Regions from separate parts of the Homo sapiens genome. Here region 1 is linked to region 2. Evidence: fine-mapped QTL for protein levels in blood plasma. A gene starts in region 2. The other region holds a variant in brackets. All regions are shown on one strand. Distances are between the middles of the regions.

Region 1 (10,704 bases), 90 kb before region 2:
GCAGCCAGGGAAACGTGGGAAAGTTTGGAACTTCCTAGACACTTGCTGAATGGCTTTGCCCAAAATGCTGATAGTAATACGGACAATAAAGTCCAGGCTGAGGTGGTCTCAGATGAAAATGAGGAGCTAGTTGGGAACTGGAGTAAAGTGACTCTTGTTATATTTTAGCAAAGAGACTGGTGGCATTCTGCCCCTGCCCTGGAGATGTGACGAATTCTGAACTTGAGAGAGATGATTTAGGATATCTGGCAGAAGAAATTTCTAAGCAGCAAAGCATTCAAGAGGTGACTTGGGTGCTGTTAAAGGCGTTCAGTTTTATAAGGGAAAGAGAGCATAAAAGTTTGGAAAATTTGCAACCTGACAATGTGATAGAAAAGAAAATGCCATTTTCTGAGGAGAAATTCAAGCCAGCTGCAGAAATTTGCATAAGTAACAAGGAGCTGAATGTTAATCCCCAAGACAATGGGGAAAATGTCTCCAGGGCATGTCAGAGGTCTTCACAGCAGCCCCTCCCATCACATGCCCAAAGGCCTAGGGGAAAAAGTGGTTTCATGGGCCAGGCCCAGGGTTGCCATACTGTGTGCAGCCTAGGGACTTGGTGCCCTGCATCCCAGCCACTCCAGCCATGGCTGAGAGGGGCCAACATAGAGCTCAGGTCATGGCTTCAGAGTGTGCAAGTCCCAAGCCTTGGCAGTTTCCACATGGTGTTGAGCCTGTGAGTCCACAGAAGTCAAGAATTGAAGTTTGGGAACCTCTGCCTACATTTCAGATGTATGGAAATGCCTGGATGCCCAGGCAGAAGTTTGCTGCAGGGGTGGGGCCCTCAGGAGACCCTCTGCTAGGGCAGTGTGGAAGGGAAATGTGGGGTCAGAGCCCCCATGCAGAGTCCCTACTGGGGCATCACCACTAGTGGACCTGTGAGAAGAGGGCCACCATCCTCCAGACCCCAGAATGGTAGATCCACTGACAGCTTGCACTGTGCACCTGGAAAAGCCACAGACACTCAACACCAGCCCATGAAGGCAGCTGGGAGGGAGGCTGTACCCTGCAAAGCCACAAGGGTGGAGCTGCCCAAGACCATGGGAACCCACCTCTTGCATCAGCATGACCTGGATGTGAGAAATGGAGTCAAAGGAGATCATTTTGGAGCTTTAAGATTTGACCACCCCGCTGGATTTCAAACTTGCATAGGGCCTGTTTCAGCCAATTTCTCCCATTTGAAATGGCTGTATTTACCCAATGCATGTACCCCCATTGTATCTAGGAAGTAACTAACTTGCTTTTGATTTTACAGGCTCGTAGGTGGGAGGAACTTTCCTTGTCTCAGAAGAGACTGGACTGTTGACTTTTGAGTTAATGTTGAAATGAATTAAGACTGCGGGAGACTGTTAGGAAGGCATGATTGGTTTTGAAATGTAAGGACATGAGATTTGGGAGGGGCCAAGGGCAGAATGATAGGGTTTGGCTGTGTCCCCACCCAAAACTCATCGTGAATTCCCACGTGTTGTGGGAGGGACCCAGTGGGAGGTAATTGTATCATGGGGGAAAGTCTTTCCCATGCTTTTCTCCTGAGAGTAAGTAAGTCTCACAAGACCTGATGGTTTTTTGAAGAGAAGTTCCCCTGCACATGTTATCTTTCTCTTTGCCTGCTGCTATCCATGTAAGACGTGACTTGCTCCTCGTTCCATTCCCCCATGATTGTGAGGCACTCCCAGCTACGTGGAACTGTAACTCCATTAAACCTCTTTATTTTGTAAACTGCTTCAGAGGATGCAAGCCCCAAGCCTTGGCAGCTTCCACATGCTGTTGACCCTGTGAGTGCACAGAAGTCCAGAATTGAAGTTTGGGAACCTCCACCTAGGTTTCAGAGGGTGTATGGAAACGACTGGATGTCCAGGAAGAAGTTTGCTGCAGGGGCAGGACCCTCATGGAGAACCTCTGCTAGCACAGTGTGGAACGAAAATGTGGGGTGGGAGCCCCCACACACAGTCCCCACTGGGGCACTGCCTAGTGGAGCTGTGAGAAGATGGCCACTGACCTCTAAACCCCAGAATGGTAGATCCACAAACAGCTTGCACCGTGTGCCTGGAAAAGACACAGACACTCAATACCAGTCTGTGAAAGCAGCCAGGAGGAAAGCTGTTCCCTGTAAAACCACAGGGGCGGAGCTGCCCAAGACCACAGGAAACCACCTCTTGCACCAGTGTGACCTGGATGTGAAACATGGAGTCAAAGGAGATCATTTTGGAGCTTTAAGATTTGACTGCACTGCTGGATTTCAGACTTGCATGGGGCCTGTGGCCCCTTTGTTTTGGCCAATTTCTCCCATTTGAAATGGCTGTATTTACCCAATGCATGTACCCCCATTGTATCTAGGAAGTAACTCACTTGCTTTTGATTTTACAGGCTCATAGGCAGAAGGGACTTGCTTTGTCTCAGATGAGACTTTGGACTGTGGAGTTTTGAGTTAATGCTGAAGTGAGTTAAGACTCTGGGAGACTGTTGGAAAGGCATGATTGGTTTCAAAATGTGAGGACATGAGATTTGGGAGGGGCCGGGGGTGGAATGATATGGTTTGGCTCTGTGTCCTACCAAAATCTCACCTTGAATTGTAACTCCCACAATTCCCACATGTCGTTGGAGGAACCCAGTGGGAGGTAATTGAATCATAAAGTCAGTCTTTCCTGTCTTGTTTTCATGATAGTGAATAAGTCTGCAGAGATCTGATGGTTTTAAAGATGGGAGTTTCTCTGCACAAACTCTCTTTGCCTGCTGCCATCCATGTAAGATGTGACTTGCTCCTCCTTGCCTTCCACCATCATCATGAGGGCTCCCCAGCGATGCCAAACTGTAAGTCCATGAAACCTCTTTCTTTTGTAAATTGCCCAGTTTCGGGCATGTCTTTATCAGGAGCGTGAAAATGGACTAATACAAACACATTTCTAAGTGTCTAAACTACAGTCTTCCTTAAAAAACAAGGGTAGTCTCTGTTGCAATAACTATTTTAGTTAAAAAAATCAGGTACACAATACAAAATTAAGTGGTTTAAGGACTGAAACAAACTTGTCTGTTTAAATTCTTGGGGTTCCATAAGGAAAAACAGAGGTTTCTCCCCCAAAGGGAGTCTAGCACCTTCTCCATTTTCTTTAAGGAGTTTCTTTAAGGAACTCCACACTATTTATAAATAATATAAACTATTTTAGGTCCCCCGTGCAGCAGAGGGTGCAAGAGAAAGGAGAGACAGCAGAAGTAAATGAAGAAACTAGAATTGAGTCAACTGAGAAGAAAAAAACCTTTGTTCAAAAAAAAGACAAGGTTCTAAGAGAGGAAAAAAACAAAAACAAAAACATGAAGGTCCTTTAAAAACAAACACATACACACATTTTGGATGTTAACTTTAATTTATCTGACTTTCAACCATTGAGCTCCTTTAAAAAAAAAGTTTTAAAATCTCATTACCATATTGCAGCTAGGACAAATTGCTGCTATTTCAGAAGTACCAAGTATCAAACCAGAAAGGACTTGATTTAGGAACCAAACCCAGCTGTCATGCTGGAAAAAAAAAAAAAAGGAAGGCAGAACCCTAGGCATTGAACTGCACTGTGGGGTAACAGCCATTGCTTTCAGTTTGGCCTGGCTAGCAAAAAGTGGTCTTGTTATGTAAATAAAGCCCCTTAAGTAATGAAAATCAAAAATCAATCTTTTTTTTTTTTTTTTTTTGGTGGGAATTTAGCCACTTCAGAGGCCTTGTTCCCCATAATTTGAAACTTTCCTTCAGATTTGATCAAGTCAGATAGAATTGGTCAAACCCAATGGGAAAAAGACTGAAACAACAAAAACAGAAACAAACAACAAAACAACAAAGAGCAAAGCAAAACAAACAATTGCACAACTTATATCATTACTGAGTGCTCTAACAGTAAGCAGAAATTAAGACCAGCTGGCTGTTAATTTTAACTTTAGCCAAGACAAACCTCAATTCAGTTACTTACCTAGGGATGGATCTCAGGCTGAAGACTGCTCTCCACCATCCTAGAAGCAGGAAAAAAAACCTCATCTTCCCTGTTGGAAGTGAGCTCAAACTCCATAAAGGAGTTACCTGCCTCCCATCATCATAGAAGCAGGAAAAAACTTGCCTGTCTTGTGTTGGAAACAAGTAAAACTCCAAAAAAAGGGGGGGTGGTGGGAGTTGTACAGCATAAACATTAAATCTCAACCAAATTTTGGGAGATCAGGGATTTTTTGGAGGGGGTGCTTCCAGGCCTCAGTAAATTGCCCTATTGGTTTGAGCCATAAAGATAACTCAAGCTGGTACTAAGCACTCATAGGAGATTTTTTCAAAGGTCAGAGGCACCTCCACTCAGAATCCCTTTGTGATTACCAAAATATGAACCCAGAAAATCTGAGACAAGTTTCAGTTAATTTAGAAAGTTTATTTTGCCAAGGTTGAGGACACACGCCCATGACACAGCCTCAGGAGGTCCTGACATGTGCCCAAGGTGGTCAGACCACAGTTTGGTTTTCTACATTTTAGGGAGATATGAGACATCAATCAACATATGTAAGATAAACATTGGCTCAGTCTGGAAAGGCGGGACAACTCAAAGTGGGGCAGGGGCTTCCAGGTCATAGGTAGATAAGAGACAAATGGTTGCATTCTTTTGAGTTTCTGATTAGCCTCTCCAAAGAAGGGAATCAGATATACATTTATCTCAATGAGCAGAGGGGTGACTTTGAATAGGAGACAGGGAGGGGCTCATTCCATAGGCCCCTCCCCACCGAACTTGAAAAATCCTCACCTCTGAATTTTAGGGGAGGCTGATTTAAGTAATAACTGCTCTAAGCAGTTCTCAGCTTGACTTTTCCCTTTAGCTTAGTGATTTGGGAGCCCCAGTGTATTTTCCTTTCACATAATCAATTTACAGAACAAGAAAAAAGAGAAAGAGAGGTGACCTATAGCTGGAGAAGTGGAAGCTGCAGCTGCATGCTGCACGGTTATGCCACACAGCCACATTTCCTTCTAGGCTCAACGTCATTTCTAGGGTTCCAAAAATTGATGATGTTCATTCATTTTTTACACCCCTCTGTGAAGGCCCCAGTACTGGCCCAGACTGGCCAGGTACCCCACGGTGCAGAGGGATATGCAGCGGCTCCCCACAGGCCTGGCTTGGGCCACATCCATCAGCAGGCAGACCATGGTGAAGAGACCTCTGCAAAAATTTTAAGTGCAAGAGATCTGACCTAACTGACTCCATCTTGCCTTTAACCTCCAAACTGCCCTTGATCACTTCTGGGAGTGGGCCAAGCTAACTTTGGGAGAAATTTAGTTTGTAATTTAAATGATAACAGCCCTTCCCACGACTAAGCCACCCTCGTAATACTAATGAAAGGCCACCAAGTTAAGAGGATGAGAGGGGCCTGGATTCTGCTAAGATGTAGGGATAAACAATTACTCTTGTCCCAGAGGTTACAAGATTTTCAACTTCCCCAATTACTCCTGCAGATAACATCACTATTGTAGAACCTAGGATTGGACTTTTAAGATGTATTTTCAGACAGGGTCTCATTCTGTCACCCAGGCTGGAGTGCAGTGGCAGAATCATGGCACAGTG[T/C]GGCCTTGACCTCCTGGGCTCAAGCAGTCTTCCTGCCTCAGCCTCCCAAGTACCTGAGACCACAGGGACGTGCCACCACTCCTGGCTATTTTTTTTTTAATGTTTTGTAGAGAAGAGGTCTCACTATGTTGCCCAGACTGGTCTCGAGCTCCTGGGCTCAAGCATTCCTCCTGCCTCAGCCTCCCAAAGTGCTAGGATTACAAGTGTGGGCCACTGTGCCTGGCCACACTTTTGCATTCCTGACACCAGATGGCTCTACCGGGACCAGCAGACCAGCAGCTCCTTGGTAGCTCTCACCCAAAAGTGGACTCAGTGCACAAGGACCTTTTCTACACCCCTATGATTGCATCCCTAGCCAATCAGCAGCATCCATTCCCTAGGCCCTGCCCACCAAACTGTCCTTGAAAAATTCTCACCTCTGAATTTTAGGGGAGGCTGATTTAAGTAATAAGAAAACTCCACTCTCCCATTTAGCTGGCTCTATGTATATTCAACTCTTTCTCTACTGCAATTCCCCTGTCTTGGTAAACTGGCTCTATCTTGGCAGTGGGCAAGAAGTACTCATTGGGCAGTTACAGTAGGGCTGACTGGCACATGAGAGTGGTGGGACTGAGAGGCCTGGGAGCCTCCACCCTGCAGGGTCTGCTGATTGGTATCAAACCAAATAAACCACAAGGTCGGGGGAAGCTGCAGGGGAGGAGCAGCAGGAAGGACACTGTTCTGTGGCCCAGCCCAGAGCACCCCCACATGGTGTCCATGGCCATTCTAGTGTACCCTGACCTCTCACACTACTCCAACCCTCACAGCACACCTGCTGCCCTCCTGGGGTGCTGGCCTCCCTTCAGGGAAGGGGAGATTCTGGGCTTACAAAGACCAGGACAATGGCCAGAGGAAAGATGTGACAGGCCCTGGCTCCCTCCCTGCTGATGTCTTCCCTCTGCAGCCAGACTCCAGCCACTCCTTGCTAAGGGTCCAGCCTGATTCTGCTGAGCAAGGAATGTTTGTGAGGCTCCCAGGCTGGAGGCCAATGTGGTCCCTGTGTCTTGGTGGGATCCTGTCACCCTACCCCCAGGGCTACCCCAGAACAGGCAATTCAAAGAAGAGGGCTGTACCCAGGGCTCAGGAGCACAGACTCCCACCAGCCCTCCTCAGCTGGCAGAGCCCACCTGACCTCCCTGGCTGGCTCAGCTCTCACTGGGCATCTGGAGTCCTCCCCACCCCAGAGTCAGGCACAGCCAGTGCAGGTGCCACCTGCTTAATGCTGTCCTGCCCAGGCGCCCTGCCCAAGCCCCCAGCCACTCCCCAGCTCAAGGGTCAAGGGGCACAGCCTCCTGGGTGCTGATTTGCTGCAGCCAAGAGCCTTGAGCTGCCCCAGGCCCTCCTCAGTGAAGATGAGGCCAAGAGCAAGCAGAAGACCTAGGCCTCCCAACTAAGTGCCTCTCTCAGCAGAGAGCTGCACTTCTGGAGGTCAGCTGCGGAAGCTCCTTGCCCTGCCAGCCTCGGGGTCCCTTCTGAGGCTCTGCCTGCCCCAAGGTGGCTTTGAGGAGGCCTCCCCTGCTCAGCCTCCTATGGCGGCTTCAAGGGCTTCTTGAGCCACAGCTGGAACCATGGGGGCTGCCCTCAGGTGACCACCCCCAGGCTGGATCCCTCTCTGCCTTTGCATGCCCCCTTGAGATGGGTCCTAGTAGTGCCAGTTCTCCTTCCCCAGCAAGGGCTGCTCCAGGTTACTGCCCACACAGAGACCCTGGGGACCAGCACTGACTTCAGAGGTGGCACCATTCAATGTCCTCTAGTGGTGACCTTGCTGTGACCGCTGGCCTGGGGCCCCTGAAGAGCTGACACCCCACAGACACCATGTGTTAGGCACTGTGTGAAGGTTGGGCCCTGCAGAGTGGCCCCACACGAATCAGACATTCTTGAGAGTGAAAGGGGTGTTATTAGCAATTGTTCCAGGACAACAGGTGCCACCAGGACTGCCCAGGGAAAGCAGGACACAGCAGCACCCTAGGCACATCCACCTCAGCACAGCAGGAGGCTGGCAGACACAGCCAAGGCAGATGTCTCCAGAGGCCAAGAAAAGCGGGGAATCACAGGCAACAGGCAGGGGAAGGGATGCAGTGAGATCCCAGGCTGTGGAGTAAAACGGCTCCGGACTCCAAACTGTGTCCCTGACCATCCCTGCTGCTCCTGAGCCTCAACTGCTCATCTGTACAATGGGGATGGCACTAGTGACCAGCCAGGTGTCAGGAAGATTAGATAAGTGCCACAGAATGTGGACAGCACAGGTCCCACTAAGCGCGTTCTGCCTCCTGTCTTCTTGGGTCCTCTCTTCCTCCTTTGCTGCTTTTACACTGGGTATTTTCCAATGTAGCGTTTTAATTTAATGATTTTTTCACTCTATTTTCTAAATTATTTCTTTAGTGGTTGTTCTAGGGATCACCATTTACATTTTATCAGAATCTACTGTGGATCTGCGCTAATTCTACCTTCTTAATCTCCATTTGAGGCAATATTGGCTCACCCCTTCCTTTAGTTTTACCACCTTTAGTTCTTCAATCATGTCCTTTAGTTCTCAGACCATATTTATGATGGCCACTTTGAAACCTTTTTCTTTTAAATCCAGCATCTTACTCTACATAGGTAGTTTCTATTACCTGCCTTTTTCCCCAGTGTATAGGCCATACTTTCCTGTTTCTTTGCATGCCTCATAATTATCTGTTGAAGAGTGGACATCTTAGGTAACCTATTGTAGCAATTCTGGATACTAGCCAACCCAATCTCAGACTATTTTCCTACTTTCTTTGCTTAGTGACCAGCTAGACTATTTTAGTGGCATCCATTTCCCACCCCACATCCCAGAGCCTCTGACTGCATCTCAGTTTTTCTCCTCAGGAGCACAGCCTAGGTTATGCCCTCAGTCACCCTGGATGACAGTGGTTTGAAAGTGTTGCAAAGCTCTTTGTTGTTTTCCCTGACCACATCCAGCTGTTAAGCTCCACTAATGATCAGCTGATTGTTCTGTTTAAACTGCTTCACAGGTTAATCCAATCAAATTTGGGCTCCTTTGAAGGGATAGTTCCTGAAGTTAGTGTTTGTGATACTTTTACCAGCCAGACTATATTTTTGGCATATATCTCCAATAAATCTACTGATTTACCACAGTTGCCTTTCTCCATCACTTCCACTGTTTTTGAGAGCACCCTTAGGCTTGAACTTCACATCCTTACAAATGAAGTCAGTTCCTGTGGGGAGGAATGTGGAGCTCTCTGTTCTATGGCCTGCTTCTCCAGTGGCTCTGCCGTTTGGGGTGGGGACAACGCTGTATCTCCCCAACTTTGGGAGCTGAGCGTTTGGTGGGAGGGGAATCAGCAATACCAGGTGTTCTGGGCTTGCCTCTCAGTGTAGACTCCCCACTCTACAGGTGAAGCCCACTAAGAGTTGTTGCCTGCCTCCATCCCTCACACCCACAGCTCACCTCATAAATCTATCTTGTGCCCAGCACTGCCATGAGGCAGAAGTTCTCCAACATTATGTCTCTGTGGAAGCCTCTGGGGAGGGCTTAGGAATTGCCAACTCCTCTAGTGAAGTCACTGCCACATCCGCGCAGCACACAGAACTTCACGGACCTGAAGCAGGCTGGAAACTCTGCTCTCTCCTTACAGAAACTGGAGGAGCTCAGACATAATTGCTGGAGAGGGCATGAAGGCACAAGGCCTGGGCTGACTTGCACTGCTAGATGAGTCCTATACTCACTCACCCATCCTCTACAATCATGCTACCCAGACCCCTTGTAACTAGTTGTACTCATATGACTGGGACCTGGCTCGAGGGACAGGAGCAGAAGTGGTGTGCTTTCTGGAGGCAGACACAGTGGTGGGGAGGCAGACACAGTGGTGGGGATTAGAGCAGGTGTCCTGTAACATCTTCAACCCTGTGGCTCCCTTCATGAAATACACATGGCATGTCTTGGTCTGTTTGCATGGTTATAAAGTAACACCTGAGGCTGAGTAATTTATAAAGAAAAGAGGTTTATTTGGCTCACAGTTCTGCAGGCTGTACAAGCAGCATGGTGCCAGCATTTGCTTCTGGTGGGGGCTTCAGGGAGCTTCCACTCATGACGGAAGGCAAAGGGCAGCAGCATCACATAGCAAGAGCAGGAGGAAGAAGGGAGGGAGGTGCCACCAGGCTCTTTTTAACAAACAGTTCTCACAGAAACTAATCAAGTGAGAACTCACTTGTTACCACAAAGATGGCACCAGGCTATTCATGAAGGATCCATCCCGATAACAGGAACATTTCCCACCAGGCCCCACCTTCAACACTGGGGATCAAATTTCCATATAAGATTAGAAAGGGACAAACATCCAAACTGTATCATGGCAGAAGGAGCCTGGCTCTGCCAGACAGTTGAGCTGTTTCATTAGCCCTGATTTCCCTTCTCAACTAGTATGTGTGCAAGCACTGAACTGCTATCTTGCGTACACAACTCCAGGGTCCCTCTGTTATTGGCGCTGGGTAGGGTATGGTGGGAATCCTCCAGGCCCTGGCCATGAGGTGCTCCGTATTTATTGCCTCTGTCCGGGTCATGGTGGGCAGGTGGGTCTGCCTCCCCTTCTGGACCAGGTGAACCTTAACAATAGGTGCATGTTTTACTCATTCCAAGTCCCCCAGGGGCCTGGCCCATGACTGGCACTGAGGAGTTAGGGGCAATGGCAGAACTGCCTGGACCTGAAGCAGGCTGGAACCTCTGTTCTCTCCTTACTGCCTGTCTCAGTCAGTTTTGATTGCGATAACAAAATACCACAGGCTAGGTGTCTTAAACAACATAAATTAATTTTTCACAGATCTGGGGACTGAAAGTCCAATATCAAAGGCACTGGCAGTCTGGTGTCGGCTGAAGGCTTTCTCATTTGCAGATGGCAATTTTCTATTTTATTTCCTTTTTTTTTTTTTTTAGCAATAAGGTCTTATCATGCCTAGGCTGGTCTCGAACTCCTGGACTCATGCAATCCTAATGCCTTGGCCTTCCAGTGCTGGGATTACAGGCGTGAGCCACTGCACCCAGCTTGAAGATGGCAGTTTTCTTGTATGC
Region 2 (10,704 bases):
AGCTGAGTGTTGCCAGACAAGCTTCCCAGTGGGGCTGCAGATGAAGCTGTAGGGATGCCGTCCAGCTGATGGTCCTGACCATCTGCCTGAGCCCTGGAGCAGGGCGGGGGCCACAGGACAGGGTGCCTGGGCCTTGGGAGGGCACCATGTGATGATGCCACTGCGGTCCCTGGCTCAGCAGCTACCTCTGGGTCGTGGAAGGCACATTGGCCTGGATAGGGAGTAGGGCTCAGTGACTGGACTAGGAATGAGTGTATCCAGTGCGCATATGGATGTGCGTGCCTGTGTGCATTTGTGTGTGTGTGTGTGTGTGTGCGCACGTGCACGCAGGCAACGGGCAAGCTTCAAGGTGGTTGAATGGGCAGCACCCGCAAGCCTCTGGGGCTTCTCTCTCCATGCAGAAGCTGAACACCCTGGGCTGTCATAGGCTGGCTCAGAGGAAGGTTTGAGCCAGCAGGGCCCTCTCTTGGTCTTGTTTTTGGAGGACGGGCTGACGACAGGACTGGCCCGGGTCAGGGAATGGGTGGCTGGGATTGGAAGTGAACCAGTGCCTTGTCCTGGCGGAGCCACTGGAGCCCACTCTGCTCCTGTGAGCCTGCCACTCGGAGAAGTTAGAGGGCAGCAACTGCTTCGGCCCGCGTCCTTCCCCCAAGGCCAACAGCTGCAGAATTTCTGCCCCAGCCGCCCCCACCCCCGGAGGTGTCTGCACAGTGTCCAGGTGTCGGGCCCAGGAAGCCCTTGGTGGATGCTGGTGAAGAAGGGACAGGTACAGGGTATGGGAGTGTGTCCGGAGGTCCTGGGGTGGTGGCTGTGCATGGGTCCGTCGTCCTGGGGGAGGAGGCACTGTGCCCTCTGATGGCCAGGTGGACAGAGTCACGACTGCTTTGGTGGGTGTCCCCGGGGCTCACCCTAGGTCAGTTGCCTGCTCAGTCTCAGCATCCAGCCACCGCCTCTGGGCTCAGTCAGCTGACTGGCCACTGTTGTGTCCCCTCAGGGCCCAGGGACACAGATCCCCACATCTGAGGCCTTGCTGAGTGGAGTTCTACTGTGCCTGGTGTCCGGAATTCTGGGACAGCAGGACCATCGCCCACCTCATGGATAGGGAAACAGACTAGGGCAGGGAATTCCCAGTATGGCCGCCAGGGGCTCAACGAGGCAGGCCAAAGGGGCTGATTCGTCCCAGGCCCAGGCCGCCGCTCCCCGCATGACTTCCCCTCTGGACACCTGCGAGTTGGGGGCACCCTTGGGGAGGTGGAGGGTCTTGCTCCTGAGGGCGGGGAGGGACGCCCTGCGGTCTGCACACCCCTCTCCTTTAGAGATTTCTTAAAGCTGCGGAAGACTAGCGCTGGCTGGTCTGACCTCTCCGCGGTAGTGGGGTTCAGAAGGGCCTCTGCTTCCCCTCCGCGCAGTAGGGCCTAGCGGCACGGGTGGGCGCCCTTCTCCCTCCCCTCCACCGCCACCTCTTGGCGGCTGGCTGCTTCCCCGCCAGCTTTACCCACGTCCTGCGACGGTCACGGATGCGACGCCCACTCACCTCCCTAGACCCCGCGCGCCCGGGTGGTGAGCGCCTGGCCTCCGCGAGCCCCACCCCGTGGGCGCGCCCTCCCGAGGTCCCTCCCTGGCCGTGGCCTCCCCACGCATTTCCTGGGAGGGTCGCGGCGACAGGCAGGGCAGGTGGGCGTCCTCCAGGCCGGCCGAGAGGGCCAGGGCTCTCTGAACTCTGTGCTGCGGACCCCTACGGTCCAGGCGGCCCAGCTGCGCGCGCAGTGCAGGTTCCGGGCAGAGCGCACAGGGTCGCCGCGTGCTCGCGGTGCGCGCTCTGGGACGAGTCTTCCTGGCGCGGGTTCCGGGACTCGGGCGCGCGCCCTCTGCTGGCCGTGCGGGCTCAGCATCGGGGGCCCCTCGCAGGTGCCCTCCCAGGGATAGGGGCACCTGCTGAGCCTTCACCACTGCGCTCCCAAAGAGCCTGGAGGCCTCATCCCCATTGTGCCGCTGGGGACGCTGCCAGAGATGCGGCGACTTCTTGCTCCGTCCCCCTGGTGAGGCCAAGGCCCTGCCCCCTTGGCTCCAATCGAGGCCCGGGTGAGGCCCTTGGAGGTCCGGCCATGACCCAGGGGACGGGCCCTAACCGGAAGCCACGCCGCCGGCCCGGTGCTGGCCAACGGGGAGGCCCGGGGTAGCCCTTCAAGGGGGCCTCTCTGGCAGCTTTCTCTGGTCGGGGCTGCTCCCCAGGGACAGCATTTAATTCCTGGTATTTCTGGGAGGGCGTAGAGGTAGGGGGTGGGTTCTGACATCTGGGCCCTTCATAGACAGAGGTGGGCTCTCACAGGGGTCCTAGGCGACCCCCGCCACTGCCCTGGTTACTCCCGCATGCTCCTCGGGTATGCCCAGCTGGTCTGACCACAGCCTGCTGCATACCGCTCCCACCCCAGCAGGCACAGGTGCCCACAAGACCCCACGGGCGTGACCCAGCTGATGTGTGGGGCCTTAGAACCCAAGACCTAGCTGGGCAGCGCTTAGATGGTGTGCAGCCCAGGAGACACCAGGGGACTGGGGCCTGGAGAGGGGCAGTGTCCAGGGGTGGCTCAGGCCCACAGCAGCCCGTGCTCCCCGTTGGCTCTGCCCACCTGCCGACAGGGGTGACAGTGGCACAGAGCACTGTGACTGTGATGGGACAGCCAGGGCCAGGAAGAGGGGGAAGCGAGCCTGGAAGTCAGGTCTCCTGGGTCCTGAGAACCCGGGGCTCCTCCGCTAATCTCAGCTGTCCCAAGGGGACAGTGGGCAGTTGTCAGAGGAGGTGACTGAAACCGTGGAGCTGTGTGGTACCAGCAGGCCCAGGTGCACACACCCAGGAAGACCCCTTGGGCTGGGCAGGCAGAGCCAGATGTATCCACCCTTGGAGGAAAGTGGATGCCAACTCTGAGCTTCCTTCCCTCTCTAGGGTGGGAGCGATGTCTCCAGGGTTTACAGGGGAGATTCTTAGCGGGAGATGTTCCCTGGGCTAGGGTACAGGTCCTGGTCTGAGATGCCAGGCTAGTTTGCATCAGGAAAGGGGCCCAGGAGGCATTTCTTCCCCTAAGTCTCTGTTTTCCTATCTGTGAAATGGGTCACAGAGGCTCTGGGTGAGAGGGAGGAGCAGGTGCCTAGAATGTGCTGTCCTTCAGCCTGGCTCTCCTGAAGGCCAGTTCTGTAGGGTGTCAGTGCCCAGGAAGGACAAAAGTCATGTCCACTCTTGGCTTAGTTATGTTTTATAAGCGTGGGGTATGGAAGGCAGAGGGCGCCCCTGGTGTGCTTCTCTCCCCTCAGACCCCATGAGTGAGCTGTGCCACAGCAGCAGGAAGCAGGGGGAGGTGATCACAGGTGGAGCCAGGCCCCGTCAGAGAGGAGGTGCCTGAGGAGCACCTTCCGCCCTGCCGCCCTGGGTTCAGAGTTCCGAGTTGCAGAGGTCTCGGAAGCAGCAGAAGATCAGGTGGGCGGCCCCGATGCTGTCGGGGTCGGTGGCCACACAGGAGCTGGAGCAGGAGCGGGTCACCACGGGGCTCTGGTTGAAGGGGTACTCTGCAGGGTGGGCCAGTGTCAGAACCCTCACTCCCCTGCAGCGCCTGCCTGCTGCTGCACTGCTCCCAGCCGCCGTCGCCTGACCTCACCCTCCCTGTGATCCCTGTTCCCAATAGTCCACATCTGTGAAGCCACCCAGGGCCCAGCCCTCCTCTGACTGTGACCTGTTCATGAATTATTAGGCCTTGTCAGACCTCTGAAGTGCCTGCGCTGAGATGGGAGCCCGAGCCCAGAGGCTGTGGCAACACCACCCAGTGGGTCTGTGTCAGAGCTGGGGTTTGAGCCCCCCAGGGTACCCCGGCCATTAAGCCCCACCCACCTCCAGCGCCTGGTGCCCCAGGACTGGGTCTCTGAGGGGGCTGTGCCACCCTCGTGGAAGGCACCCCTGCCAAGGTGTGGCAGCCTGTTCTGCCCATCCCACCTGCTGCCTTTTGGGCCGGGAGGAGCACCAGCAAAGGAGGGAGGCACTTGGGGGAGGTGGCCCTGACTCCAGTGCACCCAGGGCTGCCGTGGGGCCTGGCCTCACCTGCCTCCACCGTCACCAGCGTGGTCATGCAGGCTGTGTCCTCTGGCTTGCAGCGGGTAATGGTCCTGCAGGAAGCACTGGTCATGGGCTCCTTGCAGGTGTAGCACTTGAGGGCCTCACCTGGGTGAGGGATGGGGGCAGAACCTCATCACCTGACCTCGGTGGCCTCATCCTGGAACCAGGAGGCAGGGGCTGAAGGAGTCTCGCTGACATCTTTCAAGGCCCCGGGCAGCCCTTCAAGGGGCCTCTCTGGCAGCTTTCTCTAACTGAGCTGAGCCACAGACTTGAATGCTGCATCCCTCCACCAAGCCTCAGTCTCCCTTCCTGCAGAGTGGAGCCGTGACCCCTGTCCCAGGGTGAAGCTGGGCTCTGGGACCCAGGAGGCTCACTGAGAATGAGGAGGGTGAGCCTCATGGAGGCCTAAGGAGGCTCTCAGCCACAAAGCACCCCCAACAGCCCCATCCCCCTAGGAGGTGGGCAGACAAGCTCAGAGGCAGGGTCCCCACCAGCCTGCGGCCCACTCACCACAGCCCATGCTCCAGGCTGCCACGAGCAGCAGCTGCACAGCCCAGCGAGAGGCCATTGCTCCGTGCTCAGAAGTGATGAGAGGTAGCCAGCCTCACATCAAGGATTTATACCCAGGCCCTTGGGCACCGGCTTCTGGGCGGTGGCAGAACCGGCCGTGTGAGTCAGGAACGTGGTAAAGGGCCCAGTGGGGAGGCAGCTGGCAGGAACATGGCAGACGGGCAGGGAGCTGGATCTGGGAGCTCTGTCTGAGGACGATGGCCAGGCCTCTGCTTGCACACCTCCAACACTGGGGAACTCACTGTTCCTCAGCCATGTCCAGTGGTCCTGGGACAGCTCTGACAGAGAAGGCCTTTCCTGCTGAGCTCAGACTGCCCCTCTGATGAGCCCCCATGTCCTGGCTGTGCCTCTGGGGTTCACATAGGCCACCCAGCCCCAGCCTGGGGGACCCTTAAGACCCAGGTTCAGTGTAGCCTCTGCCCTTGTTGCTCTAGCCCCGCCTGGCACCCCTTCCCTGCAGCCTGGCCTGCAGCCCTCTCCACAGACCTCTACCTGGTCTGTGTACACCTGATACACACCTGCAAAGTAGAAACCAGAGGTAGGAAGCAGGTGTCAGGTGAGGGTAGCATGGGCCAGCTAGACCACTCTCAGGCTGACAAGGTTGGGCCCAGGAGTGGCCCCTCATCACTGCCAGCCCCTTCCCACTAATGGCCTTTAGACCAAACCTGAGTTTCTTGATTTTAGGCGCCTGACAATAAGGTTCTGCTCACCCTCCAGCCTCCTGGCCTGACTGTGTTGTCTGCTCTTTACTGCGTGCCCCCCACGACACCCTGTTCCACACGCATGCCTGCCTATGCCATACCGCTCAATGACCACATTGCCTGGTCTCCCATCTGATGTCCCACATCTTCCCCATGCTGTGAGACCCACTAAGGTGCCCCTCTCCACAGTCCTTCCAGGTATACCAGCCTCTCTGGTTTCTCTGTCCTGTGATGTCCCAATGGGTGGTTGTATAGATGGATGAGTTGATGGATGGATGGATGGGGGATGGATGAATGGGGGATGAATAGGCGATGGATAGGGGATGGATGGATAGATGGGTGGGGGATGGATGGGTAAATGAATGGGAGATGGATGGGTGGATGCATGAGTGGATGGGTGGATGGATGGGTAGATGGATTAGTGGGGGATGAATATGGGATGGATGGATGGATGGTAAGAGATGGATAGGAAATGGGTGAAGGATGTATGGGTGGATAAGTTGGGGATGAATGGAGGATGGGTGGGGGATGGATGCATAGATGGATGGATAGGTGGATGGATGGATGGATGGGTGGATGGATGGGTAGATGGATGAGTGGGGGATGAATATGGGATGGATGGGGGATGGATGGTTGGATGGATGGGGGATGGATGGGAAATGGGTGGAGGATGGATGGGTGGATGGGTGGGGGATGAATGGAGGATGGGTTGGGGATGGTTGGGTGGATGGATGGATGGGTGGATGGATGGGTAGCTGATGAGTGGGGGATGAATATGGGATGGATGGGTGGATGGTGGGAGATGGATGGGAAATGGGTGGAGGATGTATGGGTGGATGGGTCAGGGATGAATGAAGGATGGGTGGGGGATGGATGGATAGATGGATGGATGGGTGGATGGATGGGTGGATGGATGAGTGGGGGATGAATATGGAATGGATGAGGGATGGATGGGGAATGGGTGGAGGATGTATGGGTGGATGGGTGGGGGATGAGTGGAGGATGAGTGGGGGATGGATAGATGGCTGGATGGGTAGATGGATAGATGGATGGATGGGTGGATGGATGGGGGATGGATAGGAAATGGGTGGAGGATGTATGGGTGGATGGGTAGGGGATGAATAGAGGATGGGTGGGGGATGGATGGATAGATGGATGGATGGATAGATGGATGGATGGGTAGATGGATGAGTGGGGGATGAATATGGAATGGATGGGGGATGGATTGGATGGATGGATGGGGGATGAATGGGAAATGGGTGAAGGATATATGGGTGGATGGGTGGGGGATGAGTGGAGGATGGGTGGATGGATGGGTGGATGGATGAGTGGGGGATGAATATGGGATGGATAGATGGATGGATGGGTGGATAGATGGGGGATGGATGGGAAATGGGTGGAGGATGTATGGGTGGATGGGTGGGGGATGAGTGGAGGATGAGTGTGGGATGGATAGGTGGCTGGATGGGTAGATGGATAGATGGATGGATGGGTGGATGGATGGATGGGTGGATGGATGGGTAGATGGATAAGTGGAGGATGAATATGGGATGGATGGGGGATGGATGGGGAATGGGTGGAGGATGTATGGGTGGACGGGTGGGGGATGAGTGGAGGATGGGTGGGGGATGGATAGATGGATGGATGGGTGGATGGATGGATGGGTGGATGGATGGGTAGATGGATGAGTGAGGGATGAATATGGGATGGATGGGGGATGGATGGGGAATGGGTGGAGGATATATGGGTGGATGGGTGGGGGATGGATAGATGGATGGGTGGGGGATGGATAGATGGATGGGTGGGGGATGAATGGAGGATGGGTGGGGGATGGATAGATGGATGGATGGGTGGATGGATGGGTAGATGGATAAGTGGGGGATGGATGGGTGGATGGGTGGGGGATGGATGGGGAATGGGTGGAGGATGGATGGGTGGATGCGTGGGGGATGAGGGGAGGATGAGTGGATGGATGGGGACGGATGGGTGGATGGGCAGAGGATGGGTGGGTGGATGCATGGATGGATGTTGGATAGATGTGTGGATGGATGGATTTCAGAAGGATGGATGGATGGAGGATGGGTGGATAGGTGGGTGGAGGATGGATGGATGAATGGGGGCAAGATGGGTGGATGGATTATTAAATGAATGACATTTGAGAGAGTTGATGTGTGAAAAAATGAATGAATGGATGGGAGAATTCAGGGATGGAGGGATGGGTGGCTATAAAAGTGGCGGCAGACAAATGTGTAGTGAATGGGCCCTTCCGAGGCAGAATTCGATGCTGGAAGGAGCTCTGGGCTGGCACCAGGAGTCCTGGGTTCTGGTCTTGGCCTACTGCTCTCTCCATTTGTGGCCTTGGTGTGGCCCCTTTTTCCTTCCAGTCTTTGGTTTTCTGTTTGTAGTTGTGAAAGCTGAAGTGACCTGGCCTTGTGGGCTGAGGTGAGTTGTGTGAGGCTGTGGGATGGTTGCAAGAAAGCCAAGGGAGGGCGTAGTTACTGCAAATCAAACAAAGGGGCTGACATGGGTTGGTGCACAGATGGCAACCAAGAGCAGCCTCTCCCCAGGGCTTGGTCCACAGACACACCCAGGTGTTTCGAGAGGAGTCAGAGACTGTCCGGTTCTGGAGCCTGAGCTCCACCCGGCCTCCCGTGAAGCCCATGTCTACTCACAAGGACTCTCACCCCACGTTCTTTCATCTATAAACTGGTCAGGGGAACATCTGCCAGAGGGTGGTTGTGAAAACTAGCAAGTATCTGGCAAAGGATGGGCCTCCATCAAGCTTTCAACTCAGCTCTGTGCTGATCACAGTGCAGGTGTACTTGGGGCAGAGGTGGGCGGATGCTGAGGACAGGGGTACTGCTCTCAGCTGCTGCTCACATTGGCTTTGAAAGGGAGGGAAGTCCTCAGAGGGTGCTCTGGGTGGGAGTAGCAGCCAGCAGAGGGGCACAGGCAGCCTTTCCGCTGTGTGGGAAGAGTGGGCACTAACTTGGCCCATCCCTGAGCCCAGCACCCTATTGGCAGGTGGAAAAGCAGCACTGTGTCAGACACAACTCAAGCAGGGAGAATTTATGCCCTAGTTAGGTGACTGCCCTCCCCTCCTCCTGCCTCTCCATGAATCCACACCTTTTCCCGACATGTGGAACCAGGAGACCAGGTTTTTTGAAGGCAGCTCAATCCCCCAAACCCCAGAGTTCTCATCCATGATAGGCCTGCAGCACTGAGCCAGTTCACACCAAGCCCCAGCTATCTGCCATGTCAGCCCGGTCTCTTTCCCAGAGGCCTGGCCCTTTCTCCTTGGCTACACTCTCCACCCTCCACTCAGAGAGACCAGCTAAAATGCAAACTGGCTTATGGCACTGCTCTTCCCAGAAACGCTCCCTGGCTCTCCACTGCCTTCAGCATGCAGTCAAAAAGCCCCACCACCACTGTTGGTGTTTGATGCTTGCCCTGTCTGGGCTGGCCTGAGGGACTACTGGACTGTCATCTCCTCAAGTAGAACATGTTTCCATTCCTCTAAGAATCCTTCTCCCACAGCCTGGGTCTGACCATGCTGACTGTTGAGCAGCATTTGCTGGAGGATGGATGGATGGATGGATGGGTGGATAGATAGATGGGGGATGGATGGAGGATGGATGGATGGATGGATGGGGAGATGGAAGGGGGATAGATGGATGAATGGGTAGGTGCATGGGTGGATGGATGGGGGATGGATGGATGAATGGGTGGGTGCATGCATGGATGGATGGGTGAGTGGATGGATGGGTGGGTGGATGGATGGGGGACAGAAGAGGGATAGATGCAGGGGTGGGTGGATGGGTCGATGGATGGGGGATGAATGGATGAGTGAATGAATGGAGACTGGACAGAAGACGGATGGATGGGTGGATGGATGAGTGGATGGATGGATGGTGGATGGATGAGTGAATGGATGGATGGATAGATAAATGGATAGGGGATGGGTGGATGGATGGAGAGAGTGATGGATGGGTGGGTGGGCATATGGGTAGAAGGATGGATAGGTGAATAATGTATGGCTAAAAGGGGAGATGGATGGATGAGTGGGTGGGTGGAGGAGGGATGGATGGATGGATGGATGGATGGATGGATGAATGGATGGATGGATGAGTAGTTAAAGACAGGCTTAATGTTGTTTCTTCCAAGGTGACCCAGGATGGGTATTTGTGGGCATTCAGGTTGACTTCTCCCCAGGGTACAAATGCTCTTGCAGCCTCTCTGACAAAACTTAGCACAGGTTTGGACACCCCTGGGAATGGGAATCTTACTCCTTCTCAGGGCAGTACCTGCCCCACTGGGACAGACCTGTTTCAGGCCTTCTTCCATGGGAGCTCAGACTTGCCAGTCTGACACCCGCAGCCTTGGTTCTGACCCTGTATCCAGGCTGCAGAGCCAATTACATCTCACAGGCGAGTCTGATAGCTAGTCAAGTTCCTTGGAGGATTGAGGTTTTTTGCATAGACAGGCACTGAGTGAGCTCTCAGGTTTGGCTGCTGATTTAACAGTGGGCTAGGGTAGAGAGGGGGAGGCAAGGAGCTGGAGGTGGCTGTGATAGCTACCCAGGGACATTGGCTGGTGGCTTAGATGGCATGATGACAGTGGGCACAGGGCTGAGGCCGAGGAAGATGTCCTGGCAGTGGGGTGGGGGGATTGCTAATGCTGAGTTATGGGAGGTGGTGGCTGAGGTCCTGAGGGTGCTTTGTCCTCTTGAAGGTTAGTGCTGGGCTCCAGCCTTGTCCTGACTGTATTGTCTGCATTTGAGATCCAGACATCCCTGCCCTGGGGTGGGCTGGGCCCTGCTCCCTGAGGAAGTGTGGCAGGTGTTCATCCTGTTCTGGAAGGTCGCAGCAGATGGCCTTGGGGAAGTCAGGAGTAGAAGAGAAAAAGAGGACGGCTGGCAAGGTGGTCTCATCATTCCTCTGATTTCAGGGCCAGATGTAATGGGGCCAGGGCAGAGGGTGCTAGAGCTGGCAGTTCCTAGAGAGGAGCAGAGCCCACTCCATCAGCCCGCCAGGGGTGGGAGTGGCCTGCACCACCAGACACTGAGTTCAACTGCTCCCCTCGCCTGCCTGCTCCTGGCTCCTCTTCTAACCAAAATCTGGAACCACTGGCTCTTCCTCTTCCCATCAAGCCATGTCCTGCCCTGCCCATTTCTACAGGCTGTGAAACTGCCCAGGGCACTGCACTGGTGGGGCCCTGGGTCCCTGCCCTGGCACCTCACTATAAGCCTCTCCTACCCCACTGGCAAGCTGAGGAGTAAGCCTGGATGAAGGACTTGGGTCATAGGGAATCTCAGGGACAGGTACCCAAAAGGTG

Alleles and levels. Positions count from the first base shown, and alleles are read on the strand shown. Strength reflects both the effect of a copy and how common the allele is.
In carriers of allele C in region 1, the plasma level of the protein whose gene starts at base 4,688 in region 2 tends to be lower than with T alone (moderate association).

Evidence for each region. PIP is the chance, under the fine-mapping model, that this variant and not a neighbour inherited with it causes the effect. Protein levels are from antibody-based Olink assays in UK Biobank. Linkage for the fine-mapping came from a reference panel and not from the study's own genotypes, which makes the PIPs less certain.
Region 1: its variant is fine-mapped to the plasma level of the SLURP1 protein (UK Biobank, PIP above 0.99).

Annotation. Positions count from the first base shown.
Region 1 is chr8:142,647,840-142,658,543 of GRCh38, forward strand. It overlaps JRK (Jrk helix-turn-helix protein), which reads right to left. Exons shown (of 2, transcript NM_003724.4): 2 at 9,621-10,704. Among named protein-coding and RNA genes, the nearest start is that of JRK, 17 kb to the right of the region's middle. The variant T/C (reference allele first, on the strand shown) is at 5,613.
Region 2 is chr8:142,737,719-142,748,422 of GRCh38, forward strand. SLURP1 (secreted LY6/PLAUR domain containing 1) reads right to left here and starts at 4,688. Exons shown (of 3, transcript NM_020427.3): 1 at 4,610-4,688; 2 at 4,085-4,204; 3 at 3,231-3,558. The coding sequence starts at 4,667. The coding sequence ends at 3,425. RefSeq lists an enhancer at 671-1,237 and silencers at 1,486-1,765, 1,806-1,885.